2 separate regions of the Homo sapiens genome follow, and region 1 is linked to region 2. A link means that fine-mapping ties the variant in region 2 to the plasma level of a protein whose gene starts in the linked region. Region 2 holds a variant in brackets. A gene starts in the other region. All regions are shown on their reverse strands. Region 1 holds the start of TFPI2 (tissue factor pathway inhibitor 2). Region 2 overlaps TSPYL1 (TSPY like 1).

The links. PIP is the chance, under the fine-mapping model, that this variant and not a neighbour inherited with it causes the effect. The UK Biobank Pharma Proteomics Project read protein levels with antibody pairs (Olink). The fine-mapping took linkage between variants from a reference panel, not from the people measured, so its PIPs are less certain.
Region 1: it holds the start of TFPI2, and the variant in region 2 is fine-mapped to the plasma level of the TFPI2 protein (UK Biobank, PIP above 0.99).

Annotation. Positions count from the first base shown.
Region 1 is chr7:93,883,224-93,899,167 of GRCh38, reverse strand. TFPI2 (tissue factor pathway inhibitor 2) reads left to right here and starts at 8,415. Exons shown (of 5, transcript NM_006528.4): 1 at 8,415-8,577; 2 at 8,849-9,031; 3 at 9,945-10,133; 4 at 11,737-11,907; 5 at 12,272-13,772. The coding sequence starts at 8,490. The coding sequence ends at 12,348. TFPI2-DT (TFPI2 divergent transcript) reads right to left here and starts at 8,274. Exons shown (of 2, transcript NR_134235.1): 1 at 8,089-8,274; 2 at 5,580-5,926.
Region 2 is chr6:116,261,506-116,277,449 of GRCh38, reverse strand. TSPYL1 (TSPY like 1) reads left to right here. Exons shown (of 1, transcript NM_003309.4): 1 at 1-2,592. It also overlaps a transcript of DSE not described here. Among named protein-coding and RNA genes, the nearest start is that of TSPYL1, 10 kb to the left of the region's middle. RefSeq lists an enhancer at 5,823-6,324. The variant A/TA (reference allele first, on the strand shown) is at 8,432.

The DNA of each region.
Region 1 (15,944 bases), not on the chromosome of region 2:
ACCATTCTTTCTCAACATGTTAGCTTATTTTCAAGGTGCACGTGACTTACAGACAACCAAATATATTCTATGACAACTCACTTTCTTTCCCAGAACTACTCTGTTTCTCTGTTTCCACTGTGCCATTTGAGTTTTCAAGACATTTGTAAAGAAAAAGGATAGTGGTAATAGAAAGTCATTGGTTTATTTCACAGATGTTCATGAGAGCCTACTTTCCAGGTCTCATTCTTGGCTCTGTGATATAGTGGTAAATAACACAGGTAAGCTTTATGCTCCCACAGAGCTTATGTAACAGTGAGAGGATCAGACAAGTAAAACATGCATTTTTTTAATTGTTTGATATACTAAAGGTACTCCACGTTCTGTGTGGGGTTAAATGGGAAACAAAGGTGAAAACAAGGAGCTTAGGTAATGGTTCCTCAGAAATTGCAGACTTGAACTACATTGGCTGTTGTGGCTATAAAGAGACATGAGCAGATTAAAAATGTGATTTGGCTGTCATCCCAGCACTTTGGGAGGTTGAAGTGGGTAGATCACCTGAGGTCAGGAGTTTGAGACCAGACTGGCTAACATGGCGAAACCCTGTCTCTACTAAAAATACAAAAATTAGCTGGGCATGGTGGTAGGTGCCTGTAATCCCCACTGCTTGGGAGGTTGAGGCAGGAGAATCGCTTGAACCAAGGAGGCAGAGGTTGCAGTGAGCTGAGATTGCGCCATTGCACTCTAGCCTGGAAAACAAGAGCGAAACTCTGTATTTAAAAAAAAAAAAAAAGTGATTTGGAGGTAGAATTGAAAGGACTGTTGATGAATTGCATAATTAAGCAGTGGTAGCTCTCAAGAATGACTCCAGAGATTTTGCCTTGAGAATCTAAGTAGAAGGGTCATTTACAGAAAGGAGGAAGACTGGGGATATATAAAAAAGACTTCAGTTTAGGACATAAAATGTTTGAGTTTCTATTACACATTCAAGTGGAGATACTAAATAGACATGAATGTCTGAAATTTTGAGAAAAGATCAAGACCACACACAAATACATGCGTATGTATGTGCATGTGTATATGTGCGTGCAAGGTTTATATGTATATGTATTTGAAATGAAATCAGAAAATAATATGGTTAGAAAAGAATTCTCAGGGTTGAGCCTTGAGTCACCTAGCCTTTAATGGTTAGCCAGAAAAGGACAGATTGATTGAGAAGGAGCAGTCAACAAAGCAGGAAACAAACAAAAGAATGTGGTGTTATGAAGACTGAGAGAAAACATTTAAAGAACGAGGAAGTATTTGTCAAATACTAAAAAGAATTTAGATAAGATGTTAATGGAAAATGTGATGTTGGGTGATTTTAAAGGACAGTTGCTTTGGGTGTCATATATTGAGAGGTCTAGTAGCACGTGTCAAGTTTGCTCTTGACAATAGCACTTCCTGTTCTTCCTCTTCCCAAAAGGAAGTTTAATTGGAGTGATCTGGGAAAAACAGGAGATGAGGAAGTGGAGGAAGAGAGTAGAGGTAAAATTTTTGATAAATTTGGCTAGAAAAGGGAGCAGTAAAGTGGCAACACTAACAGGAGAAGGATATAGAGTCAAATATAAATTTTAACTTTGGGTTGAAAAGTCAGAGACAAAGCATTCCAGATGGAAATTATTAAAATCTGGGTGTCTTTGCCAAAGAGTAAGAGGGGGCAGAGCTGATGCTGTTGAAGAGAGGAAGGAGTAAAGCCATTGAGAAAACAAGAGAAAAAAGGATGAAGAGCAGTAGACAAGGGACTGGTCTCAGATAGGTCCTGAACATTACTTCCATTGTAAGAGAAAGGAAGACCAAAGATACCTGAGATTCAGTTGACCAACAGAAACAACTAACTCACCCTTCCCTGGCTGGTTCAGAATATGTAGTCGAGGTTAACATATTCAACTCTCTTCTAATGTAAACTTTTCAGCTCCACTCAGTTTTTCCTCAGCTAATAGTCAATAAGAGAAAACACATAGTGAGAGTCCTAGGAGATGTGTGTTCCTTTCAAACTTCAGCTATTGCCTCTTCCTGCCCCAACTGGCAGATTGTCCCTCATGTGTGATTTAAGATACAAAAGCTTTTCAACGTAAGCCAGAAAAAATGAGCATTTGGAGAGCATATGGCACTGCAGTAATCAATGTATAACTAACACGAGATTTTGGCCACTTTATAAAAAGACAATATATTTGAAAGAAAATGTGTCTTTACATTTGAAAGGTCAAGGTCCATTACTTTCTGCTAAATATAACCGTGAAAATGAGGACTTTAGTGATTAAATTTCTCAATCCTCTAATCTGATTATCAGTTTTGGCAGCTGTTCTTCTTAGAGCATTATGGCAATGTATTTAAATTGTAGCTATCTGTTTGCCCTATGAATGAATTATGAACTTTATGTTTGCATAGAAAAGAAAACTGATACAGCGTTGTCCAGGTACTGAACCAGGGTCATGAAAGTATATATAATAAGCTTGACTTTGGCCTCTGTTAATGTGGAAAAAAAGACTGTGTATACAGTCAGTGAGACCAGGGGATCAGGATTTAGACTGCCTGTGCTAACTGAATAGCTTTGGGAAAGTCATATATCTATCAAAAGTTTCAGCTTTCTCATTGCAGAGTAGGGAGAGTAACATATCTCCCTCAAGTCGTTATTGTGCGGGATTTAATGAGCTAATAAATTCAAGGCATAATGCAAACTTTCACTGTTATGTCCACTAGTATTGTGATTGCCAAGGAGATTTCCACATGATATACAGGGATTAGGGGAACATTCCTCTTCCTTTCTCCACTCTTGATGTGCCAGAGGCTTAGTAACCAAGGCTAGAATTTTGGCTAGGTGGTGAGGCAGCACTGAGTTGGGAGGTCTCGGATAAAAATCATCTAAAATTTGCCATAATCTTCTGGATGCCATACACAGTTAAAGATGTAGCAATCTGAGTGAGAGAAAAGATGGTCTGCATCGCAAGTAGACATAATGACACTTGAGGGAATGTACATCCAGGAAGTAGAGAAAAGTGGTTTCTGAGATTCTGCTCCTCTAGCAGAAGGCAATACTTTGTTACAACCACAGCACCTAAAATAGCCAACCAAAACAAATAGATGAAGGAATGAGTCTCTGTATTGCATAGGCCTAGAAGATATAGTGTCAGGTATGTTTGCATAGAGTGGATTTTATTTGGAATTGAGCTTTGCCTACCTTTTATTTACTTCCTCCTCTATAATCCTATACAACCTAGTACATATTTTTGATGTTGTACTAAGAACATTGTAATGTAACTGGGTTATACAGTGTTCATTCATCTACCCTATTATGTTATGAGGTCCCTCATATTTGTATCCCAAATGTCTAGCATAAAGTTTGTCACACTTCAAACATTTAATCAGCTCCCTTTAAAGTAGATTAATGAAGGAATGAACACAGTAAGAGATACGTTATATACCCTCATTATCTCTTTCTTTCTAGGGGGAAGGGGATTCATAAAATTAGGCACAGAGGATACCCCATCCTTTCATGTGGCTTCATCTTATTATATAGCACTCTCAAATGCACTCTGTGCCTGACAGAGGGTGCATTAGAATAAATGTTTCTTACATGGCCCAGCTGGTTAGAAAAATACCTAGTTGGTGAAGGAGTTGCTTAAACTTTAGCAAAACCCTCATGACCATTTACTGCTCAGAAGAGATTAACTATCTTTCTTAGCAGATGTGTAAACTCATTAGTGCCAGCTGGACTCATTTCAAGTTTTATTTTGGCAGGGCTTAAACTAAGAGGCAGCAAAAACTGTCTTTGTTTATTAAGGAGTTATCAGTGTAACTCCTTAAATACCTATGTTACATAATATGTATCCCCAAATCACTGGGCTCAATTAATTCTCATCATTCACTCATAAGCCAGACATGCTACCTCTCTCTAAGGTGTCTGAGAGAGAGGAAGACCATCTGCCACAGTCCATTTCTTAAATTCTTGGTTCACCTACCGAGACGGCAGGGCTCTCAGAGGATACAGTATCATACTCAAGGCATGGGAGGGGCTAAACAGGTCAAAATCAACTTCATTTGTTGTGGGGTCCAGGGGTGTGGTGGTGAGAAAGATCAGAGGCAGCAATCTGACACATGCAGAGGCGCTCCTGGACTCACTGCAGCTTTTGCATTTTTAAATTCTGGTATTTCATATTCTGCTTTAAGGTCTTGGTATGGTAGAAAGAACTTAGGTCTAGGTGTGATAGAAAGAATATAGGACTAAGAATCCAGAACTGTGGATTCTAGTCTCAGGTCTGCCAACAACCATGGCAGGTAAACATGACCAGATGCTTAACCTTTCTAGATCTCAGTTCACACTTGTGTAAAGTGAACATACTTATAGTTCCATTCAGCATTCAAATTACAACTCCATGCCTTATTTTTACAGAACTCCAGACTATTTTGAGCCTTTGTCTTTAGCCACAGACAATTTAACTGTCAATTGGTGTAGCAATGACAAATCAATCTGGATGACTGTTTTTCCCAGTTATCTCTAGCCTTGCACTTCCTGTTGACTTTGGACAAAGGAATTACTTTCCTCAGCCTTGAGGCAGCATTTTGGGCTAGACACTGGATTAAGGAGATAGAAGTGCTATGACATCCCTTTGGAGGCTGATTGTGGTGGTCATGTTGCTCCTTCCAAAATATTCTAAATGTAAATTCAGTAACGTCAAAGTAGTCTCCAGGAAATTCAGATTACCCTTATATTGGAAGATGTCTTTTTCATGGATATAAAAATACTCAATTATTTATGCAATTAAGAGGAATACTTTTTTTGTAATAACCTGGGTTAGTAATCTCAAACTTCTGCCAATTCCACTTCTTTAATTCTCCTTTCTCCATCTGTGGTCATAGAGGTTTTAAGGATGCACCCTGTTTGGCATAGAAAAGTAGAAGGAAACCAGCATTTCTAGAGCATCTCTCGGGACTGATTCCAACCTGCATCTACAGACCACACCACAGAAGGGTGAGAGGCCTGTTTTTGCCCCCCTCCCATTTCCACTACATGCCTTATACAGCAGCCCTGAGTGGGCTGAGGATTCTGCTCTGAAATCCCCTTGAAGCTCATTTCCCTAGAAGAGACTACCAGAAAGTGTGACAACTTCATGGGCAGAGAGGTGGTCTCTGAGCTTAGTTAAGAGAAGAGCTGACAGGAGCAAGGACATGGGCTTTAATTCTATAAGGCCATTTCATGTTGCTCTGTTTCCTGATGGGAGTTTGATGCTCCATCTCAAAATTGTGTGCCAAGGCTCTCAATGGGAAGTAGGATATGGGATGATCTGGATGAAGTTTGTGCCATTGTGTGAGGGGCTAAAACAATATCTTTGAATGCATAGGCATTTTCCATTTAATCCTCATAACACATCTGCGAGGTAGAGTTATTATGTCTATTAGAAAAGGAAACTGAGGCTCAGAGAGTTTTAAGTAACTTGTCCAATGTAGCAAGGAATAAAATCCAGGTATCCTCTGAATTCCAACTCTATTTTTCCATGGCACGATGCAATTTCCCAAAATGTCTGTCTTGATACAAAAGGGCTAATCTTTTTTTTTTTTTCTTTTTAGTCAGATTCAGAGTCTCACTCTGTCATCCAGGCTGGAGTGCTGTGGCACGACCATAGTTCACTGCAAATTCAAACTCCTGGGCTTAACCAATCCTTCCATCTCAACCTCCCATATAGCTGGGACTACAGGTGTACACAACCATGCCCAGCTAAGTTAAAATTTTTTTTTTTGTAAAGATGGAATCACACTATGTTGCCCAGGTTTGTCTCTGACTCCTGGCCTCAAGCGATCCTCCTGTCTCAGCCTCCCAAAGTGTTGGGATTACTAGCAGAAGCCATTGTGTCCAGTGGTTCATTTTTTTTTTTGTATGAGCGAAAGACAATCAAAAAGTGTCCAGCACCTGAGAACAAAGAGAAATGGCAGTAGTCAGTGCTCCATGAAAACTGAGTATCAGTCCTTGAATTTTATTTTAGTCTAAAGATATATTTAATTTTATTCAGAAGATAGATATAGGTAAGTTTGAAGTTGAGTCAACTTTTCTCCTGAATATGATTCTCGGTAAATGAGTGGTAAAATTCCCTCCCCTAATAATATTTTGAAGGAACTGGGAGGGTCTAATCTGACTTTACTCTGAATGTGTCATTCCAAAACTGGCTGTCTGTCTCAGTGGTTGGTGCATTAGAGCCAGCTCACACAGATTTTGGCCATGGGGAGCTCTGGCTCTTGGAGATCTTTTCCCACCTCGGCATTCAGTGATTCTGCAGTGGCAGCTTGAAATTGACCTTAGTGAGCACATTTACATCACAGAAATCAGTTAACTATACAAAGCATCCCCATCCCATTTATTTTTCCCTACTGGAGAGGTGATAATTAAACATTTATCCTTATAGTTTCAACTATCATTCTTAATCATAGACATCTGCTAATCAAAGCTGACAGCATTTCCAGATCAGGCTGGTTTTCCTAGGACTGTGACCTTGTAACATGACATCAGAATGACTGAAAACTGGCACAAGGATATAATGTGCAAAATACCTCAGATTATTAACCCACTTTGAGCAAGTGTGTCCTATACTTTTCAGGGCTTCCTGAAAACTTGAAAGAGAACTTCTGTAAACTACCCCCAGTATCCTCAGAAGTCAAGAATAATTATTTACTTGAGAATGTTGAATACAACAAGAGAAAAGGGGAAGGGAAGACAAGTATATTAAAATGTCTTCAAAAATATCTTTAATATTTTATGTAAAATTTCACTGTAGGTAATTGTTTGTATTAAAAAAAAAAGTGGATCACAAGCTAATATGTCAAAGGAACAGGGAACTTTAATGGATGCACTGACATTAGGAAATGTGTGGGAATACACTGATCTGGTCAAATCTTCAGAACTCCCCAAGGCTATCTCTCTGGGCTGCTATGGTTCTTCTCCAAAAACATAGATACATACAAAAACATAGCTTCATACATGCTTGGTTGGGGTGTAAAATGGTACAATCATCTTGAAAAAATCCTTTGGCAGTGTCTAACATTTCTAAGTATTTTATCCAAGAGTAATAAAAATTGCAGGTCCACACAAAGCAGCTTTTTTCATAAGAGCCCCCAAACAAACTAGAAACAACACAAATTCCAGTAATAAGACATTTGTGATATATTAGAATATTACTCAATGATTTAAAGGAACAGACTATTGATACACACAGCAACATATTTATACATTGTGGGATATTCATACGTTTTGGTAAATTCATACCTTGGACTACGCAGGAATTAAAAGAAACAGACTATTGATGCAGTGACCTGGGCGTATCTCAAAAACAGGAAGTGTGAGAAAGAAATACTACACAGTGAATACTTTATAATTCCGTTTATATGAAATTCAAGAATAGGCAAATCTAATCTATGGTAATCGAAATGAGAAGAGTGTTTGCCCCTGGCCTAAGGATGGAAGGATTGATTTAGGAAAAAGTCTGCAGGAGCTTTCTGGAGTGATGGAAATGTTCTAACTCTTTTTTTTTTCTTCTTCTTCTTCTTTTTCTTCGTTTCGAGACGGAGTTCCACTCTGCCGCCCAGACTGGAGTGCAGTGGCGCCATCTGGGCTCACTGCAGCCTCCGCCTCCTGGGTTCAAGCCATTCTCCTGCCTCAGCCTCCCGAGGGGCTGGGACTACAGGTGCCCGCCACCACGCCCGGCTAATTTTTTGTGTTTTTAATAGAGACGGGGTTTCGCCATGTTGGCCAGGCTAGTCTCGAACTCCTGATTTCAGGTGATCCACCCGCCTTGGCCTCCCAAAGTGCTGGGATTACAGGCGCGAGCTACCGCGCCCAGCCAAAATGTTCTAATTCTTTATTGGTGGCTACACAGTTGTCAAAATTTATCAAACTGTCCACCTACGATATATTATAAGCCTGTATTAAATGTAAATTAGAACTCGATTGAAATCTGTGTGTATAAATATAAATATACACTTATTTACATTTCTAATCTAATCTGAAGGTCCATTGCAACGAATCCCGCTCCGCTCTGACCCAAGAACTCCGCACTTTCTCTCCACCAGCCTTTCAAATACCTGAACTTCATGCCTTCAAGAGGTGGATTCCGGCTTCTTTACAGCGCAATCACTAGCAGGTCATTTCCGTCTAGCTTGCAGATTTCCCATTACTGACACAAACGCTCCCTCAGGGCGTCCCCGTCTGGACTACAGGAGAAAGTTTGGGAGGCAGGTTCAACTTTTCAACTTGGCGGGGAATTCCTCTCCCTCTTACACAGTTTGCAGCGCGGGGGCGGCGGGGTGACAGTCCCCGTGCATGAATCAGCCACCCCTCAGGCTCCGCCCCGGCGGGGGTCGGCCGGACGCTCGCCCCGCATAAAGCGGGCACCCGGGCCGCCTGGAGCAGAAAGCCGCGCACCTCCTCCCGCCAGGCGCTTTCTCGGACGCCTTGCCCAGCGGGCCGCCCGACCCCCTGCACCATGGACCCCGCTCGCCCCCTGGGGCTGTCGATTCTGCTGCTTTTCCTGACGGAGGCTGCACTGGGCGATGCTGCTCAGGAGCCAACAGGTATCTGGCCGCTCCAGGAGCTTCTCTCCCCAACCGGCGGAGAGGGCGCAGCGGGCCATGGGGCCCCGTGTAGGCGCCCTCCAAGCCTCGCTTTCTCCAGGTCCCTGCCGCGCGCTCCGCTGGCAGGGGGGACTCGCTCCCAAGTTTGCACTTTCTCTGCAGAGGCCCCTCCGCTCGGAAGGGGACAGAACTCCCCGGGATGTTCTTTCCTCCTAGGAGCTACGCCTGACCACTTTCCCTCTCTTTTGCTCTCCTTCTGCCCCTTCTTCAGGAAATAACGCGGAGATCTGTCTCCTGCCCCTAGACTACGGACCCTGCCGGGCCCTACTTCTCCGTTACTACTACGACAGGTACACGCAGAGCTGCCGCCAGTTCCTGTACGGGGGCTGCGAGGGCAACGCCAACAATTTCTACACCTGGGAGGCTTGCGACGATGCTTGCTGGAGGATAGAAAGTAAGTGCCCTGCGCGCACCCAGGACTCTCGCGCTCCTTGCGCCGGCGGCTGGTAGCAGCTTCGCCAGTTTCCCACGTCTCGCTTTCTACAGGAAGTTTTAGCCTGGGTTTTCTCAAGTGTTAAGCAAACCTCATGGTTTTCAGTTTCTTAAAAGTAATCACAAATTTACAACCACTAACACATTTCCTGTCTCCCAACTGACATTGATCATAATTCAGTGCCTGTGCGGACTCAGGGAAAGATTTGTTCCCTCACCATGGGGTATAATAAATGCAAGAGAATAACGTGTTAGGTACAACGTAAGTGCTTCTCTGTATTTTTCATTAATTCCAAACCTATGATTTTTATCTCTCCTGGAGTACATCATTTCCTTCTGTCGATTATCCATCAATCTGAAATATTTTTAGTGGATTTTATTATTGAAGTGTGACTTAGCTCATTATATAACTCTACTTTTGTCCCGATACCCAAACATGTGTTGGATTAGTTGCGGGACATGGTGGAGATTCATAATACTGTTATATTTTAATTTATTTTTAATTTTTAAATTATATCGGTTAAGGCCTGTAAGAGAACATGGGGCTTTTCCATTCAAGGAACTGAGCCAGGGGAAAATGCGTATTCATGTGAATAAGCTTTGATTCACTGCATATGTACAATCAGAGAACACCCAGAGAAAACAGAGAGTCTTTCTACTGAACTTGAAAGATACATCACAGCTGAGTCAGCTCTGAATACACTGTTAGAAAAAAAAAAAGTAAATATCTGGATTCATGGGAGTATTCTGGGTATTTACTATCCCAACACTAATACAACTTCTCTCCCCCCACAAAATGTTGCTGAAAATACAGTGATGGTTTAATAAGAAGGCTACTTTTGACTAACATTGTTCTATTACCCTCCTTTTCCTAGAAGTTCCCAAAGTTTGCCGGCTGCAAGTGAGTGTGGACGACCAGTGTGAGGGGTCCACAGAAAAGTATTTCTTTAATCTAAGTTCCATGACATGTGAAAAATTCTTTTCCGGTGGGTGTCACCGGAACCGGATTGAGAACAGGTTTCCAGATGAAGCTACTTGTATGGGCTTCTGCGCACCAAAGAAAAGTAAATACGATTTTTATGGTATTTCTATTTCACTTTTTTGAAAAGACATTTGGGTGGAAAAAACTCAATTTGATGCGAAATTAACATGTGCATTTTCATGATTTCACATTACTTGACAAGTTAGTGACTTGTCAAGTTCTTAGGACTGGAAAGTGACAAAGCCATGATTCAAATTTTTGCTTTCTGCCTCTTCTGATTTGTTGTTTTTGAGACGGACTCTCGCCCTGTTGCCCAGGCTGGAGTGCAGTGGCACAATCTCGGCTCTCTGCAACCTCTGCCTCCCGGGTTCAAGCGATTCTCCTGCCTCAGCCTCCTGAGTAGCTGGGACTACAGGCGCCCGCCACCATGCCCAGCTAATTTTTTTTTTTTTCTTCTTTCTCTTTCTCTTTCTTTCTCTCCTTCCTTCCTTTCTCTCCTTTCTTTTTCTCTTTCTTTCTTTCTTTCTCTTTCCTTCCTTCCTTCCTTCCTTCCTTCCTTCCTTCCTTCCTTCTTTCCTTCCTTCCTTCCTTCTTTCTTTCTTTTCTTTCTTTCTTTCTTTTTTCTTTCGACGGGGTGTCACCGTGTAAGCCAGGATGGTCTTGATCTCCTGACCTCATGATCTGCCCACCTCGGCCTCCCAAAATGCTGGGATTACAGGTGTAAGCCACCACGCCCAGCCCTGAATTGTTTCTTTAGAACTATTTCTCAGCTACTCAATTTATGCATAAAAGATTAAAGTATTCATTAATGAATGTTATGACCTCAGATTTGTACACAATAAGTTATACATGTGAGATAGTGGAATATATACAGAATTAAGATGGTGAAACTTGAAAATTTCTTTCTAAAGTTTTCGGTTAGATTTCTGTATTCTTCAGTAATTGCAAATTGCAGCACAAACATCTCCACACGTTTCTGTCCTATCCATTTGTTACCTCTCCCACCACCACCCCTGAATCCTTGAAATGATAGTCTCTTGAGTAGTATTTAATGTTTGCAGAGGGAGACAATACAGGCATTTCCCCCAGACACAGAGATTTTTGAAAAGTTCAACAAACAAGGAAAACTTGCTTTGGCAGAGAATTTGATAAAGCTTTATAGCTGTACTGTGTTGAATATGCAAAATCTTGAGTTAATGTGGTGATGGTTACTGTGGATGTTCTCTTGTTTGTGTACATATAAATGTTTGCTCCAGTGGTTACCTGGAAATTAGTATGCATATATTATTGATTAATAATGGAATGAGAGCTGTTAAAAACATTAAAGCAAAACTACCAACACGACAAAATTTACCAAATCATGCCACATATTGTCCTTGAAACTTACCCCATTTTTACCTAACCATATCTGGTATTTGGGTTTAACTTCTTTTTACATTTAAAGGATACAAAGATGTAGCTTCAGAAGAAATTCTATCCAGTTTACAAAAATTTAGAATTACCAAAATATAGCATGTAAGCTTACCTGCAATTTGAAGCACATCTTTTTAAAGGTTTAGTATGATATTTTGGATTCAGACTGAGGCTTCTATGGGATTAGATTTTCTTCAGTTACTTCAGTAATCACCATAATTTAAAAATTCTGGTATTATAACATTTCTAATTTTCTTCTCTTTTTTATAAAGTTCCATCATTTTGCTACAGTCCAAAAGATGAGGGACTGTGCTCTGCCAATGTGACTCGCTATTATTTTAATCCAAGATACAGAACCTGTGATGCTTTCACCTATACTGGCTGTGGAGGGAATGACAATAACTTTGTTAGCAGGGAGGATTGCAAACGTGCATGTGCAAAAGGTAGTGAATGTTTTCTTATTCCACCTTTAGATAAACTTTATAAATAACTTATCAGAAAAATTATATTTTTATTTATCCATTTTACTAATAGCAAATTGCTGTTTCTAGACTACTTCTACATAAGTATCTCCGTAGTGTTAATCAGTTTTGTCAAAATGCTTTTACTGGCTAGCTGCAGTAGACGGTAGCTGTATCTTCATATCTTAAAGGTAAAATATTATTAACTGAGTGTATAATGAGTTTTGACTTCACAGTCCTTAAAAATAAGATGAAGTGAGCTCAATAACCTTATCAGAAATAGTGATTTATAGTGAGCCTACAGACTGGAGATGTATGATTTTCATTGTCGTTTTATTGATTTTAGCTTTGAAAAAGAAAAAGAAGATGCCAAAGCTTCGCTTTGCCAGTAGAATCCGGAAAATTCGGAAGAAGCAATTTTAAACATTCTTAATATGTCATCTTGTTTGTCTTTATGGCTTATTTGCCTTTATGGTTGTATCTGAAGAATAATATGACAGCATGAGGAAACAAATCATTGGTGATTTATTCACCAGTTTTTATTAATACAAGTCACTTTTTAAAAAATTTGGATTTTTTTATATATAACTAGCTGCTATTCAAATGTGAGTCTACCATTTTTAATTTATGGTTCAACTGTTTGTGAGACTGAATTCTTGCAATGCATAAGATATAAAAGCAAATATGACTCACTCATTTCTTGGGGTCGTATTCCTGATTTCAGAAGAGGATCATAACTGAAACAACATAAGACAATATAATCATGTGCTTTTAACATATTTGAGAATAAAAAGGACTAGCAAATAAAACTCATTTTGCATTTAAAAGTTGGATTATATTTTAGTCCCAAGAAGACAAAGTCGCAGATTAACAACACTTTAAAAATATTACTCCCATTTTATTGTGTTAGATTGCAGTACAATGAATGAATAAGGGGATTTATTTAAAAGATCTTAACTTTCTTGACTGATTTAAAAAGCTAATCAATTTATTAAAGCCAGAAATGTTCTCCTCTGGGAAAGCAATTTCTATCTATTTATCTACCAATCCCCACTCACATGTATATGTTTGTGTTTACATAGAGATAGATGGTTTTAAGGGTTTTCCTATTGTTAAATTATTTCCTAAGACATTGTGGGTTGGAGACCACTAAACTTATAAAAAACCAAGGAAAGTAAAGTTTTTCAAATGTTTATACTGTTTAAGGTGTTTATTTATATAAACCATGCATGAGAAACCATGCATAAATTTAATAATTTAAATTTCACCAGTAAATTATCATTGATTAAATATGGTCATACCAATGAAATAGGTTTTTTCTTTCTCTGTAATAAAACAATTTTTCTAAATTCTTATGTTTTCATAGCAAGATTAACATATTTAATTACAAATTAAATATGCAAAATGACAAATGCGTTTACCTTTTGCTTGAACAATCTTTCATTTAAAAATTTATCCCAGTTATTTTGACAAATAGGTATATGCCTGAGAACTTTGAATGATGCTGAAAGCTAGAAGCAAACCAGGTACTCTTCAGTCAGGGACTGGTTGAAGATTTTATGGATGAGGAGTTAGCAAAATATCTATATATGCATATCTTCTGACTCCCAGGATACATAAGAAACACAGGGCCTAGAACAGTATGAATAAACACACATATACACAAACATCACAGAAGATACTAAAGATATTAAAAATGTTTACCTATAGAGGTTTGGAGAGAACAGAGGGGTGGACAGTTGTGGAGATAATATTTGTGTAAATATAACTGTGATATAGTTTTTATCTTGGACCATGTAAATATTTGACATAATTAATAATCAAAATTAAATAAAAAAGAAAAAGCATTTCTTTAAGCATTCAAACCCAACTGAATACCAAATAGTGGCAAAACTACACAAAAGATATATACTTATTTTCAATGACTTCACAAATTAATATGAGAATGTCTTTTGGGGAATATAAAGGTGAAAAAATTCTGAAGAAATCTCAAAATGCATTTTTAAATTTGTTATTACTTTTTATTTGAATAGTTTTGGAGTTACAAGTGGTTTTTTATTACATGGATGAATTATATTGCAGTGAATTCTGAGATTTTAGTGCACTGTGAAAATGCATTTAGTAGTCTCATTGTTAATGGTAATACTGGTGTTATTTTGAACCTATTGTATCTAGAATACTATGTTGTAAGAAAACAAGTAGTTACATTTCTTTAGAAGTCAGGATTTTCAGTGTTAAGAGAAAATGAGATACAAGTATACAATGAAAGAAATTAAGTAAAAATCTTTGACTTAAATTGGAATTAGAAATATTCATATAAATTAATAACTGATTTTCTCTATCAAAAAATCTGTATTTCCCACTTTTCCATTGAAAAGTCCTTGAAGTAATGACAACTCAGTAGCAGTAGTTACAATGAACATCAAGACTGTGGTCTCTCCATACTATTACTCACTGGTTCCTAAGAACCAGTGCTCTTAGGAGAATAGCTGAATCCAGGTCTGGGGCAGGAAATATGTAAAATAAACTTGGGCCATCTTACTCCAGAAATCAAGGAAGCTATCAAAGACTAATGAATCATGTCACAAAAACGGGAGCAATATTAAGGAGCTCCCACTAACCTAAAATGAGACAATATGGCCATCAAAACAAATAATGACCACAATGTATATAAATATATAGAAATCTGAGTTTATGATTATATACACACACTCACCTCCTTGGTACCTTTTGGAGGTTTCTAGGGCATTATCTCATTCATTTGAAAACGATGAATTAACAGAAAGAATAAAGCATTTATCCTTTTTTTGTTTATTTTTTAAAAACTGTACCACAGGGAAAATAGTATATGGATGTCATTCATAGAATTCCACCTAATACATGCATTAAAATGTTAGAAAATACTCCTAACAAAAGTATGAATATAGGCATCCCTCACCATTGGGTGCTGAAACAATTGTATGAAAAGTTTTTGGGGACAGTCTCATGGGAAATCAGGCTAATGTCTCTGAACTCACAGATCATTTTGACATCCATAATAGTTTAGTCATAGACATTATTTGCTTCCTGATATGATACAATAATAAGTGCACCCTCCCCATCAAGTATTTTTGGAGAAATAAAACACAGTAAACCCAAAGATAGTCAAGACTGTAGATATCACTATCATATTGCCAGATTATAGAGAAATACTGGGGATATGGGAACAAGTTAAAAGAAACCAAGGAAAGTAAATCCATAATGTTGGGCACTCTACAGGACAAATACCTTGGTTTCTCCATACAAGTCAATAAAAATTTTTAAAAATGGCAGAGAGGAGGCAGTGCTTTAAGAAAAAATAATAGATAGCAATGACAAAAAGCAGCATGCCATTAAACGGTTGGTTAAGGCCTGAATTTATGACTGTTTTTGGTGGGAATAATTATAGGAGAAGGATCTTGTGTGTGTTATGGAGGTGAAGAGTGAGTGATTCAGAGCCTTTGAGGATTCTGGGGGCTCCTAGTAACCCCAAAGGGAAGCTGGATTTGGTATTTGCTCCCTTCGTCTCCCATGTAGCCAAAGCTCTTAGGGGATCATGGATCCAACTCAGCCTACATTTGCACCTCTTTGATCAGCATGGGTAGGAAGTAGATATTTTGGATAAAATTATTCTAATGCCCTATTACCTCTGCCATGTTAGTTTAATTAAGAAATATATAAAGTGGTCACAAGACATTCTGCAGTCAAGGGAAAATTCCTCCTTACCACAATCAATGTGAAGGCAAATCACAGCTGTGGTTAAAAGGAATGTCTCATTCTGTGACACAAAAAGTCAAAATAGAAATGGGATGGCTTTTAATAAGACAGTATTTTTAAAATTACCCTGGACTATCACTCATGTGTCCCCTGTGCACACACATTGTCACAATATTTAACCATAGAAACTGCAATGGAGGCCTCCAAATTGCCTGGATCACAGCACCCCCAAGTGTGCATGCTGTCTCCCCCAACAGTCGTGTTAGACTTTTAGCCAACAATCT
Region 2 (15,944 bases):
AAGGTGCCCTAAGCAGGAGAAACTGAACAAAAGGCTAGAGGCATGGGCCAGGTAAAAATTGGGCCTAGAGTGAAGACTGTGCTGTCGTTAAGAGCTTTCGAGGAAGGAGTACTTACTCCCCAATGATGATGAATGGAAAAATACTTTTCAGGGAGAATTGAAGGGGTTAAAGTGTTAAATATGTTGCCTAGACAAGGGTTCTTTAAAGAAAGACAGCGCAACTTTGAATGCTTTCTTACTTGTTTTGTGACCTAATTTATGTGGAAGATTGTTATTTCATTAGGATTTAGTAAAATTTTTTTTTCTGATTCTAAACTTATTGTGAAAATTGAGCTGTACAGATATTCTTTTGATTTCAATTGGGAACATTTGGAAGAACAACAGTCTTACTTGCCTGTACAATATAGAGACATATGAATAGTCATAACAGTTTTCAACTTGTTCTTGTTTCTGTTAAACTATATTCCTAGAAACATAGTTTGAACAACTTGGTCTTTGTTAGGCTTGTCAAATTGCCTTCATGGAAAAATAATCTACAAAAGTATGGTTTAATTGATTGTCTTACATGATAATTTTCCCTGGTAACAACTTAGTAAGTGATATATCTTTTTTCCTAAATTGCTTAAATACTGTGAAATTGCTCTGACAAATTGGAAGTGTACCATTGGCATATTTGTCTTCCTTTTTATGCATGATGGTAAAATAAAAGCATGTTGTTCTGCTAGATTTCTTATTTTTCACCTTACCCATAAATGTAATGCTTGAATGAAGTTGTTCATATTAATTAAAAATTATGGAATCATTAAAGTCCTTTAATCCATTAAAGTTCTTAATGGATTAAAATCATTAAAGTTCTTAATGGATTAAAATCATTAAAGTCCTTAAATTGATGTTAACTAAAAATTACAGAATCATTAAAGTCCTTAAATGGACACAATAGACATTATCCCAAAGAGAAGAAAGCAGGGCACGGTATGTTTGGTACCTTCCAAGGTAGTTTGCCTTAAAACGTTAGCAGTTGCAACTGCTTACTCAATCACTTTTTTCCATGTAGTTTATGCAGCACAACCTCCCCTTCAGTTGCTCAAATCCTCCATTTCTGTCTCCATAAATTATATTCTCAGGTTATTCAGGCTCTTCTTTTTATTAACTTGTATGCAGGGAGTACCTATCATATGTGATGTACTCCTCTATTTTCATACTTTCTCATCTGTAAAAACTTCCTTTTTTTCTTTAAACTTCCTCACTGTTCTCTTCTGTCAAATCCTTCAAGGCCTGCCCTTGGTAATTCCTCTGCCAAAGTCTTTCTGTTCCCCATAGAGGAGATAAATGTTTCTTTATGCACTTAGTGTACTTTGGAGGGACCTCTGTTCTAGAAAATTAACATAATTATTCATTACAGTGAATTCCACAAATAGAGAAAAAGAGTAAGAAGATAAAGTCCATTCCCTTCTTTGGGGAACTGGGGAAGGACTGATAAGCAAACAAAGAATTAACAGAGTGATACAGTAAAATAAAATACAGAGATTATATTTTCATGTTTTTCCCATGTTCACTCTTTTCCTCTCAGTAGTTTGGAAACTTTGTGAAAGTGGAGATGCAGTGCATTTTACATGGTTCATTGCATCTAGCATTTTTTTTTTTTTTTTTTGAGATAGAGTCCCACTCTTGCCCAGGCTGGAGCGCAAGTGGCGCGATCTCGGCTCACTGCAACTTCCGCCTCCCGGTTTCAAGCAGTTCTCCAGCATCAGCCTCCCGAGTAGCTGGGACTACAGGCACGTGCTACCACGCCCGGCTAATTTTTTGTATTTTTAGTAGAGATGGGGTTTCACCATGTTAGCCAGGATGGTCTCCATCTCCTGACCTCGTGATCAGCCCACCTCAGCCTCCCAAAGTGCTGGGATTACAGGCGTGAGCCACCGCACCCAGCCCATCTAGCATAATGTTTTGCATAGTTGTCAGCAGATAAATATTGAATGACAAAACTCAGATGGAGGAAAAAGAACAAAATAACCTAGTTCTCAGAAAGATTTAATGAGCAAATGGGAAAATGTCAAAAAGATTTGCAATGCCATTCCTAAATAACTATTTCCCCTTTTAGTCATTAGAAAACGTCTAAACACTTTCAACATTAAATCTTTCACTTGCATTTTAACAGAGCACTACTTAATTTTGGGTTACCTTTTATATACTTTGTACATTTTAAGGTGATTATACTGGAGATAGAAGGGGGTTAGACTCTAGATGTGTGTTGTCCAATACAGTAACTTTTAGCCACCAGTGGCTATTGAGCACTTGAAATGTGGCTAGTCTGAATTGAGATCTATAAATATAAAATTCACACTGGATTTTGAAGACTCAGTATGGAAAGAAAAATGTTAAAATATCTCAATTTTTTTCATATTGATTGCATGTTGAAATATTTTTGACATTGTGTTAAAATATATTGAAAAATTAATTATCCTCATTTTGCCATTGTTTAATGTGGCTACTAGTAAATCTAAAATTACATAGGACAGCATGTCTCGACTTCCTGAGGAATATCTGAAAGCATATAAAATATCTGTAAAAATTAAACATGTTAATACTTTCTCCTCCTGAAGCTTCTTGTGACTAAGATAAGGGTTATCTTGCTTAAATTCAAGGCCAATGGGTAAAAAGAAGGTGAGTAAAATTTCTTTAATGAACTGTTCTTGAGTACTTAAGATGCACTGAATATTTTGCAAAATGTACTGTGCAACACTTTCTTGATATAGGCAGGGTAGATTTTGATGCCAAATTGACACAGTTATATTGGTTTAATTTTTAGTGACTTTTAAGACCAATATATGCATATTTTCTAAAGTAAAATGCTCTTTTTTTTTTTTTTGAGACAGAGTTTTGCTCTTGTTGCTCAGGCTGGAGTGCAATGGCACCATCTCGGCTCATGGCAAGCTTCCGCTCACCGCAACCTCTGCCTCCTGGGTTCAAGCGATTCTCCTGCCTCAGCCTCCCCAGTAGCTGGGATTATAGGCATGCGCCACCACGCCCGGCTAATTTTGTGTTTTTGGTAGAGAGATGGGGTTTCTCCATGTTGGTCACGCTGGTCTCAAACTCCCGACCTCAGGCGATGTGCCTGCCTCGGCCTCCCAAAATGCTGGGATTACAGGCGTGAGCCACTGTGCCCGGCCAAATGCTCTATTTTTAGTTTACAAATGTACATGATGTTCAGAAAATATTTTCAGTCGTATTTTAACAGTTGGCTAGCAACAGAAAAGGAAAATATCTGAGTCTAGCTCTGCATTAAGTCAGTTCAATGAACGCGTACTACTTGAAAAAGCAGCCGGGCAGGGTGGCTCACGCCTGAAATCCCAGCACTTTGGGAGGCCGAGGCGGCTGGATCACCTGAGGTCAGGAGTTCGAGACCAGCCTGGCCAACATGGTGAAACCCCGTCTCTACTAAAATTACAAAAATTAGCTGGGTGTGGTGGCAGGCGCCTGTAATTCCAGCTACTCGGGAGGCTGAGGCAGGAGAATCGCTTGAACCCAAGAGGTGGAGGCTGCAGTGAGCCAAGATTGAGCCATGGCACTCCAGCCTGGGGACAAGAGAGACTTCGTCTCAAAAAAAAAAAAAAACAAAAAAACATACTTTTTGAAAATTAGTGGTCTGTAATTGTAATCTTGCAGTAGTTGTTTATTGAATACTAGCATAAGTAAGGATTGAATGGGATAGTAAAGGTTGTCTTTGCCCTTGAGGAACTCAGGCTCATTGAGGGGGGTACCGTTCCTTGAATGTTTCCTTTTTTTCTGCAGCAAATACACACATTCAAAACATCTACTGCACACAAGCAAACTCAGAGAGGACCAGCCTGGCTGAGAGGAGTTGACCATCCCCCTCAGGACTGACTTCCTTTCCTTCAACATTATTATATAATTAAAGTCCTAGACTATATAGAAGTGACAGGTATGCTCTCTATGCATTTATTATTATGGGAGGTGTTTTACTTGGAAGCAGTACTTTCTCCATGTTAAGTGCTTTGAGCTCTGAAGGGCCATCTTAATCCATTCTCTCTGACCTCAGAGGTTGTCAAGACCTATAGAAGAGTTTCTATCAAGCCACATTAGGAAAAATGTGGATGTCTACTTTTTGGCTTCACTTTTTTTAGGATTTGTATTTAAGGTAATTTCTTTGAGAACAGGTAAAAGGAAATGGTTCAATTAAAAAGGAAAGGGTCATTTAAGTAAGTTACTAATTTTTGTGAACACCTATATGTCTTAGATATGACCTGATGGGCAGAGAAGGCATACTAGCTTTAAATTAGGATTAAATCCCGGTTTTACAATTACCATGTATTGCATTTCCCAAAATAAACTACTCTGAATCTTGGTTTCCTTATCCATAATGTAGGGATGATAAAACTTGCAGTATAAGCTAATGTTTTAGGATGCATTTGGAGACTGCATTATAAGGTTACAGAGAAGATAACAACAGAAACATTTGAGAGCTTACTTTGCGCCTGACACTGTGCTAAGAGATTTCAAGTATTAATATAGTTATAATATAGAGGTTAGACAGCAAGCATCATGTCTAGCATATAATATGCAATCAATTAAAATTTCCATTTGTCTTCCTCTCAATTTTAATTTCTCATTTAATTTACATTCAGACAAATAGTCATCTAGCTTCATGGTTCTCAAACCTGGCTGATCATTATATATAGCTTTGAGCTTTCAAAAAATACTGATGCCAAGACTCTACCCTGAACCAATTAAATTACAGCCTAAAGTGCAGCTGAGTTTGAGAATCATGGCTTACCTTTTCTTGAACTCCTTAAGTTAGGGAATACATACTCCCTTCCCAGTTTTGTCAAATTGATTCAAATTTGCCACCTTATAAACATCCAGCTATTGCAAAGAGCCTGGTATATCGTAGAGTTTCAGTATATCTATTTCATAGTTTCCCCCCTGTGGTCTTGCAGAATGGAATTAACCTGAATTCAACAAAAGAGGTCTTTAAAATTCATAACAGCAGGTGTCGTCTGTCTTTGAAATTCCCTTGCCAAAAAAGGAAATGATTTCTTAGTGATATGCTTTACTTCTGTTGATCACTATTTGCTCTTTTAAAGTGTCCAAAGATGTTTTAATAGATACTTGGTATTTGTTGTTTTCTTTAATAAAGTATAATTTACATGTAGCACAGGAATGGTCATAGCAGTTTTATTTATAACAGCCCCAAACTAGAAACAGCCCAAATGTTCACCAACAAGTGAGTGAATGAACAAATTATGGTATATTCATACAATGGAACACCACTCAACAATAAAGAGGAACAACCTATTGATCATCAACATGGATGAATCTCAGAGACATGTTAAGTGAAAGATGTCAAAGGAATATATATTATATGATTCCATGTATATGAAATTCACTAGCATAGAAAACTTTTTTATGGTGATAGAAATCCCAGGAATGGTAGCCTCAAGGTTGAGGGGAGTAACGGTAAAGCTTGAGGACATTTGCAGGGGTAATAGTGCTCCATATCTTGAGTTGGGTGATAACACAGGTGTATCCACTTTTCAAAACTTGTCCAAGTATATATTTAAGATTTATGCATTTTAGTGTAAGTAAATTATACCTCAATAAATAGATTTTAAAATATTATTGATAATTTAAAAAATAGAACTTCATTTGCCCATCTCCAGTCTTTTGGCTTCTCTTCCTTGGTGGTAAAAATTGCTGACTCTACTTACAAGATCTTATTTGTGAGTTCTTACTGTTGCATGATTTTATTTATAATTCTAATAATGAAATTCCTTTTTAAAAACTTATTTCTCTTTCAATTCCAGGCCAAAATTGACCTTTCTCAAGATTCTCTTAGTTTACAAACTGAGGTCTGTCATCCTCTGGTCATTGAAGTGAAGTCTGCTTAGGACATATTGTCCTGTAAATAGGATTGACATTCCCTGGGGCCCTCTCAAGAATCTCTCTGAGCTTCCTTTTCCATTTCTGACCATTTAGATGCTTACAAGATGCTTTTCTCTGACTTCTTCAGCTCCAACTGCTCCTTTCCATTACCCTAAAGCTGTGGATCATAAAGAGTGTTCTCCAGACCAGCAGTATCTGCACCACCTGGATCTTGTTAGAAATGCAGATTTTCGAACCCCACCCATGAGCTACTGAAACAGAACTCTGAAGGTGAGGCCTAGAAACCGGTTTTAACCAATGTGCCAAGTGATTCTAATGCCTGCTATCAATCATTTGGGAACCATTGTCCTAAACTCAGCTGCTGCTTCTGCTTCATCTCCAGTTGATTCAGTTTCCTTAATTGTTACCATTATAAAAACAAAATAAAGCAAAACAAGACATTTACCTATATTATTAATCACAAATAAGTTCCCTACCCTGTGGGGTCACAATTTGGGCTTTGGATATCTAATTCTGCATCAAGTACATATCTCTGTCTTCACAATCTCAACAAATTATTAGATATATCAGTAACTTCCATATATGCTCTCATTTTGTAGTTGCAGTGTCACTATCTCCATTTAATGGATAGGGAAATAGGGGCTCAGGAAAGAGAAGTGTATTATCCAAGACGAAGGTAACATGGGCTGCATTCAATTAGGGTTTCTCATTTCCAGCTAAGACACTTTGCACCATATTGAAGCAGCTTGTAACTAAATTTGCCATAAAAATATATCTAAAATCCTAATTAAGTTTGAATAGCTTGATCTTAGTTGAAAGTTATTCCTAATTCATTCACAAGTAGCTTTTAAAAGGGATATGTTTATGTTAAACAATAGAAGGTCTCCAAATCCTATCAGATAACTGTATCCTGTCTTTAAAAATGTAATTTTTTATATCTACTGCCTGAATTAAATTGCTTAGTTGTACTTTCCAGAGAAATAGAATGGACCAAAGCAGTTCAAATATTTTAATATTCTTCTGGAGTTTGGCTGCTGAGATGTAAAGAACTATTGATATCACTAGTAAATAAATAATGTATATTTATTGAGGTTTAGTCAATAGAGCGATTACTTATAAGAGGCATGTAGTACTTAATTATCATCCTCTTCACCAAACTCCAACTTAACCTTGGACAATACAATTAAGAGTTGTGTTCAGATGGCTTTAAAAACAGGTGCATGGTACAACATGCTCTTGTTGTTAACCATTTTGCTTAATGGCCAAACTTCTCTTGGGTCAGTTTTGATAACTCCTCTGCAATTTCATCAACAATGAGGGAAATGTAATTTCAAGGTGAGCATTGAGCACTGAGTATATTAGGCAAGAGTGGGGCTTGCTTATTTTTGGCCTTGCAGCTCCCAGAAATAGAATGTTTACAAGGTGTAATCATATTTCAGTACCTTGTTTTTCCAGAATTGTTTTCTTTTCCCAGAAATTTTTTACTCTCTATTTATTTGTATTTAGCTCTTCTTTACTAAAGTATAACTCTATCAGAGCAGAAGACTGTGTCTTCTTCATCTTTATATCTTACATTCTTAGCATGGTAGATGTTTAATTGGAATGTGATTTCAGAGAGTGGCTGTGTTCCAGTCTTGATCCAATATTGATGAACTGAATGTGTTAGTCTATTATAAGCAAAGATTTTCAGGTCAAACTTGGTTTGAAATACAGACTGTATGTTCCTCACAGAAAATGTGACTTTGAGCAACCAAGTCTGCTTAAAGTCAGCTATTAAAAGTATGTATTTCATGCATCTAGTTTTTTCTTAATATATTTTATAAAGTCTTTAAAGTGATATGTGGAAGAATGTGGTAAAGCACTTTAGTTAGAGCAAAAAGGGTTGTTTTCCCTATCAGCCCAAAATACCATATGTCTAGAATCATTAGGAATTAACTGTAACATAGTGGACAAGCATTATTACTATGTGCTAGTGTTTCATGACTTCCTCAGATTATTCAAATGGTATCCAATCTACTTGGTCCAATTCAACTCTTCTTTTCTTCCACAAACCTTTCACTTATTTTACATGGATGACTTTTGTTTCTCAACTTTTATACAATTACAGTTTCATAATAGAATTTGACATTGATTTTATACTGCCTACAATATTGTTTATTTAATGTAATTCTTAGCATAAAAATAATAAAAATGAGCAAGTCAGCTTCTATTTATTGAAAGCATATTGTGAAAAACACTTCACAGATATCTCATTTCACCTTCATGATAATTCTGTAAGTTGTTTTATTATATTCATTTTGTATATGAGTAAATTGTGGCTTAGAGAGCTGAAGTGACTTGCCTAAATTAAACAGCTAGTAAGTAACAGAACTGGGACTTGACGTCAGATCTGTTTGATTTCAAAGGGTGCATCTTTAACCAGCATACAAAGGTGTGGGGTCATTCAGGTCAGAGCCTTTGTCTCTGGTTTCTCTTAAGACTGGTGAAAGCAGGAGCATATGAGGTTTTTTTTTTTCTTTTTTTTTTT[A/TA]AAGTATTATCACAGGCAGTGATCATAACTAGATAATTAGCCTGAGAAAATATTACTTTTGTAACAGTGATAGCCTAAATAAAATAGAAATGTGATTCCATTGTAATAATAAAGAGTACCAAACATATGTGAGAAACTATGCCACAGTTATTTTACTGAAATATGATCTATTTTTGCCAAGCTGATCTATATCAGCTTAAACTTGAACTTTGAGGGCAGACAAAACAGAATCGTACTATCATCCTAAAGACTACTTCCTCCCTCTAGTGACCAGGAATGGGAATATCACAGCTACAGGCATTTAGAAAACTTGATTCTCAATGTATATGCATACCTCCCTCTAGGGGATATTTGGGAAATTTTCAGTAGTAATTTTGGTTATTACGATGAATAGGGCTGCAGCTGGTATTCATTAAGGGCATTAGGGATGCTAGACATCGTGAATGTGAGGGATAGTGCCCTATATAAAATAATTTTCCAGCTCAAAACATTCATGTAGATGAAAAATTCATTATTTTTTAAGTCTAGAACATAGCAGTTCAGTCATGTTTCACTTAACAATGAGACATTCTGAGAAATGTGTCATTAGGCAATTTCATCATTGTGCAAACATCATACAATATACTTACACAAACCTAAATGCTATAGCCTACTACACATGTAGGCTCTATGGTATAGTCTATTGCTCCTAGGCTACAAGCCTGTGCAGCATATTACTGTACTGAATTCTATAAGCAATAGGAACACAATGGCAAGTATTTGTGTAACTAAACATATCTAACATATGTTGTGTAACTAACATATCTACATAGAAAAACTACTGTAAAAAGATGGCATAAAATATTTTAAAATGGTATACCTGTATAGGACACTTACCATTAATGGAGCCTGTAGGACTGGAAGTTGATCTGGGTGAGTCAGTGAGTGAGTGGTAAGCGCATGTGAAGGTCTAGGACATTACTGTACACTACTTGATACGGTTTGGCTCTGTGTCCCCACCCAAATCTCATCTCAAATTGTAATCCTTACATGTCAGAGGGGCCTGGTGGGAGGTGACTGAATCATGGGGGCAGACTTCCTCCTTACTGTTCTTTTTATAGTGAGCTCTCATGAGATCTGGGGGTTTAAAAGTATGTGGCTTGCTCTCTCTCTCTCTCTCTCAAGCTTTGTCATGGTTAGATGTGCCTTGCTTCCCCTTCACCTTCTGTCATGATTGTAAGTTTCCTGAGGGCTCCTCAGGCATACGGAACTGTCAGTCAATTAAACCTCTTTTCTTTATAAATTACCCAGTCTCAGGCAGTTCTTTATAGCAGTGTGAAAATGGACTAATATGCTATTGTACATTTTATAAACATTGTACACTTTGGGACACTAAGTTTATAAAAAAATTTTTCTTTCTCCAATAATAAATTAACCTTAGCTTACTGTAACTTTTTTACTTTATGTTTTAACTTTTTAAAACTTTTTGAGTCTTTTATAATGACACTTAGCTTAGAACACAAATATTGTACAGCTGTACAAAAATATTTATATCTTTAATTTATAAGCTTTTTTCTAATATTTTTTCTTTTTTTTCAACTTTTTAAACTTTTTTGTTAAAAATGAAGACACAAACACACACATTAGCCTAGGCATAGCCATGCTCCCGATTATCAATATCACTGTCTTCTACCTCAACATCTTGTCCCAATAGAAGGTCTTCAGAGGCAGTAACACATACTGAGTTGTCATCTTCTGTGATAAAAATGCCTTCTTCTGGAATACCACCTGAAGGATCTGCCTGAGGCTATTTTACAGTTAAGTTTTCTTTTTAATAAGTAGAAAGAGTATCCTCTACAATCACATATAGTATAGTAAATACATAAGCCAGTAACATAGTCATTTATGTTTTATCAAGTATTATGTACTGTACCTAATTGTATGTGCTATACTTTTATATGATTAGCAGTGTAGTAGGTTTGTTTATACCAGCATTACCACCAATACATGAGTAATGAGTTATACTATGACCTTATGAGGGCTACAGCATTACTCAGGCTGTGATGACACTAAGCCATAGGAAATTTTCAGCTCCATCATAATTTTACTGTTGGATATGTGATCCATCATTTGATGAAACATCATTATGTGGCACATGAGTATTTCACATATGAAAACAAAAAATTTGCACTTTTTAGATATGTGCTGTATTTTTACAAGGATTTATTTCATCTGCTCTAAAAGTATTGATTGTAAAATAAGCCATTAGTTAACACTAAGAAAGAAAGTAAGAAAAAGAAAGAAAATAACTTTCAATTAAACTCTGACACAAAGCTTTCTAATTCTTAGGATTTTTATTGTATACATATTGAAAGACCTTTTGATTTTAAAAATGTAGTTTTATCATATATCACTCATAGGTATATATACAAAGTAAATTATGAGTGAAATAAACTAGTTTCACTATTCTAATTATTTTCCCATTTATAATAGTAATCTTAATTACTATTCAAAATTCTTGAATAATTTTGATGATGACAACATATCTTAGTAGAATGTTCTACTACTAATAACAGTATGCTTCTGAGATTTTTTCCCCTAAGCCTCCAGTACTCATTCTGCAAGTTTTGATGCTGGCACTTTCTTGACTTTACCAGAAGATATCAACAGAATATTTTCAGGGAACAAATAAGGCTTATTTTCCTTCCTCAAATGGCTCTTAAAGAGTTTACTGATTGAAACGTCAAGAGGTTGCAGTTGTCCAATAATGTCGGCAAGACTAACAGCCAAGTTCACACCTCCTGGATGACTAGTATACCATGACTGCTGTTCTGCTGGTAGCAGTTGTAAGATGCCATTGATTATATCATGGATAGTCATTTCAGAGATGTTAAAGTGTGGAAAAAGAAACTGGGTTAAAAGGGGAGAAAGCTGGGAACCCTGCATGGGGCTACTGCACACCAGGACTCATTCCTGGCTTCCACTGGCTCCAAGGGAATGGGTGAGTTGAACTGGCAAGGAGCAACCTACTCTCACGCGGCCTCTGGAACCCTGGCAGAAGGGAACCCCTTGACCACCATGGACACTCAAGGTGGCAGAGAGAGCTAATTAGAGAAGGGGTAGGGGCAGCAAGCCATCTGATGCAGAACCCAGAGGGTTTGATGTGGGAGCATCTGTAGCAGAGCACAACTAGGGAAGGCTGTCCCCTCTAGGCTTGACTTGCTCACATAGGAGATGTTAACCCTAGGGGAACTGTCAGATCTGAACTCTGCAGAGTGGTCTTGTCCATCAGACTGGGCAGGTCTGACTTGAGCACCCCTTGATTTGCTGGCCTCTCCTGGGGCCCCAGCCTGGCCATTCCTGCTTGCAGGGTGGTCTCGGGTTCCCTGGGGGCCCACACCATACCTTCTGTGCTGGTGGACCATGCTTAACCAGCAGGGAGCTCCAGTGGGGTGGCCACTACAGCCATGTGCCAGCCTGCATGCTCTCTCCTCATAATGCAGCTTCCCCTGGGCTCACACCAACTCCCCACATCACTTTGCTAGCACGTCTGTATGGGCAGATTCTGCTTTCACTGCCCCACCAGCATGTGGGAGTGCTGTCTACTCCACTCCCCCTGCTGACTGCCATTGTAGACAGAGCCTTGGTGGGCACAGAGCCAGCCAGCCCAGTCCCTGCCAGCACCCCACCCTTGCACTAACACTACACAGAGAACAGCAGATCCTTCCCTGCCCTGAGCAATCACTCCTGCTTGCAGGGCACAGAAAAGGCACCCAGACCTGTGCCCATCAGTGACCCACCCCTGAGTCAACACCACCTCCAGCATGACTGTGCACACAGTCACCATCTGGGGCCACTCCTTCCACTCCCCACCCCTGCAGCTGCATTTCCTCTGCCACTGTGGTGAATGCCTGCTAGCATGGCGCCTGCTAGCATGGCACCTGCTAGCACTCTGCTGCAGCTGTTACTACCACTGCTGCTGGCACATGTGAACGAAGACAGATCCCCCTGTTGCTGCAATATGAAACACTTTGGCTGATACCACCCATCAAAGTGTAGTGAACAGTGGTCCGGGAGCACCTCAGTTCCCCCAACACAGTGAATTCCTAACCTTGAGGAGCCAGAAAACAAAGTCAGGGCCTAATATAAGTTCCCCCAGAATTACAGCTTGAAGTGTAGGACTTGGGAGCTGAGTGCTGGCCCCATAAAAATCTTCCAGAAACACAGCCAGTTGGCTGAGTCCACCTTACACCACAAATGCTCAAGTTCATCAAATATAATAGGATAAAAGAAAAACCATCCAAAGGTCAGCAACCTCAAAGATTGAAGGAACACAAGACCACAAAGATAAGAAAAAAATCAGCACAAGAACCCTGACAACTCAAAAAGCCAAAGTGCCTTATTTCCTCCAAAGGATGGGCTCACATCTCCAGTAAGGGTTCTGAACTGGGCTGAGATGGCTTAAATGACATTCAGAATATGGATAGGAATGAAGACCATTCAGCTACCAGAGTACATTGAAACCCAATCCAAGGAAGCTGAAAATAATGATAAAACAATGCAAGAGCTGACAGACAAAATAGCCAGTATAGAAAAGACTGTAGCCGATCTGATAGAGCTGAAAAACACACTACAAGAATTTCATAATGCAATCATGGGTATTAATAGTAGAATAGACCAAGCAGAGGAAACACTCTCAGAGATTGAAGACTGGCTAGTCAGACAAGAATAGAGAAAAAAGAATGAAAAGGAATGAGCAAAACCTCTGAGAAATATGGGATTATGTAAAGAGACCAAATCTACAACTCATTGGTGTCCCTTAAAGAGATGAGGAGAATGGAACCAACTGGGAAAACATATTTCAGGATATTATCCATGAGAACTTCCACAACCTAGTGAGAGAGGCCAACATTCAAATACAGGAAATAAAGGGAACCCCAGTAAGATACTTCACAAGATCATCCCCAAGACACATAATCATCATATTCTCCAAGGCTGAAATGAAAGAAAAATGTCAAAGGTGGCTAGAGAGAAAGGGCAGATTGCCTACAAAGGGAAGCCCCTCAGACTTATGGTGGACTTCTTAGTGGAAATCCTACAAGCCAGAAGACATTGAGGGCCAATGTTCAACATTCTTAAAAGAATTTTCCACCCAGAATTTCATATCCAGCCAAACTAAGCATCATAAGCAAAGGATAAATAAGATCCTTTTCAGACAAGCAAATGCCAAATTTGTTACCACCTGATCTGCTTTACAAGAGCCCCTGAAGGAAGCACTAAATGTGGAAAGGAAAGATCATTACTGACCACTACAAAAACACACTGAAGTACACAGATTAGGGACATTATAAAGCAACCACATAAACAAGTCTGCAAAATGACCAGCCAGCTTCATGATGACAGGATCAAATCCACACACGTCATTACTAACCTTGAATGTAAATGGCCTAAATGCCCCAATTAAAAGACACAGAATGGTAAGCTGGATAAAGAATCAAGACTTATTGGTATGCTGTCTTCAAGAGACCCATCTCACATGCAATGACATATATAGGCTCAAAATAAAGGGATGGAGAAAATTCACCAAGCAAATGGAAAACAGAAAAAAGCAAGGGTTGCAATCCTAGCTTCTGACAAAATAGGCTTTAAACCAACAAAGATAAAAAAAAAAAAGACAAAGAAGGGCATTACATAATGGCAAAACAGTATTCAGTTCAATAAGAAGACCTAACTATGCACCCAACACAGGAGCACCCAGATTCATAAAGCAAGTTCTTAGATCCCTTCAAAGAGACGTAGACTCCTACACATTAATAGCGGGAGACTTTAACACACCACTGACAATATTAGATTGTTGAGGCAGAAAATTAACAAAGATATTTAGGACCTGAACTCAGCACTGAATCAAATGAACCTGATAGACATCTACAGAACTCTCCACCCCAAAATAGCAGAATATACATTCTTCTCATTCCCACATGGCATATACTCTAAAATTGATCACATAATTGGAAGTAAAACACTCATCAGCAAATGCCAAAGAACTGAAATTATAACAAAAAATCTCTTGAACCACAGCAAAATCAAATTAGAAATCAAGACAAAGAAATTCACTCAAAACCATACAGTTACATGGAAATTGAATAACCTGCTCCTGAATGACTTTTGAGTAAATAATGAAATTAAGGCAAAAATCAAGAAGTTCTTTGAAACTAATCAGAATAAAGAGACAACATACCAGAATCTCTGGGACACAGCTAAGGCAATGTTAAGAAGGAAATTTATAGCACTAAATTCCCACATCAAAAAGTTAGAAAGATCTTAAGTTAAAAACCTAATATCACAACTAGAAGAAATAGAGAACCAGGAGCAAACAAATCCTAAAGCATGCAAAAGACATGAAATAACCAAATCAGGGCTGAACTGAAGGAGATTTAGACACACAAAAAATTTCAAAGATCAACGAATCCAGGAGCTGGTTTTCTGAAAACATTAATAAAACAGACCATTAGCTAGACTAATAAAGATAAAAAGAGAGAGGATTCAAATAAACACAATCAGAAGTGACAAGGAGGATATTACCACTGATCCTACAGAAATACAAACAACCATCAGAGAATATTATGAACACCTCTATGCTCATAAAGTAGAAAATCTGGAAGAAATGGATAAATTCCTGGATACATACAACCTCCTAAGACTTAACTAGGAAGAAACTGAATCCAGGAACAGACCAATATTGAGTTCTGAAATGTAATCAGTAATAAAAAGCCTACCAACCAAAACAACAACAACAACAACAACAGAAACCCCAGGACCAGACAGATTTACAGCTGAATTCTACCAGATGTACAAAGAAGAACTAGTATCATCCCTACTGAAATTATTCCAAAAAAAATGAAAAGGAGGGAATCCTCCCTAACTTATTCTATGAGGCCAACATCATCCTGATGCCAAAACCTGGCAGAGATACAACAGAAAGAGAAAATTTCAGGCCAATATCTTTGCTGAACATCAATGCAAAAGTCCTCCACAAACTACTAGCAAACCAAATCCAGCCGCACATCAAAAAGCTTATCCACCATGATCAAGCAGGCTTTATCCTTGGGATGTAAGGTTGGTTCAACAAACACAAATTAATGATGTGATTCATCACATAAACAGAACTAAAGACAAAAACCATATGATTATATCAATAGATGCAGAAAAGGCCTTCAATAAAATTCAACACTCCTTCATGTTAAAAACTCTCAAAGTAGGTATTGAAAGAACATACCTCAAAATAACAAGAGCCATCTATGACAAACCCACAGCCAACATCATAATGAATAGGCAAAAGCTGGACACATTCTTCTGGAAAAGCAGCACAACACAAGGATGCCTGCTCTTTCCACTCCTATTCAACACAGTATTGGAAGTCCTGGCCAGGGCAATCAGGCAAGAGAAAGAAAGAAAGTGCATCCAAAGAGAGGAAGTCAAACTATCCCGCTTTGCAGACTACATGATCCTGTATCTAGAAAACCCCATAGTCTCA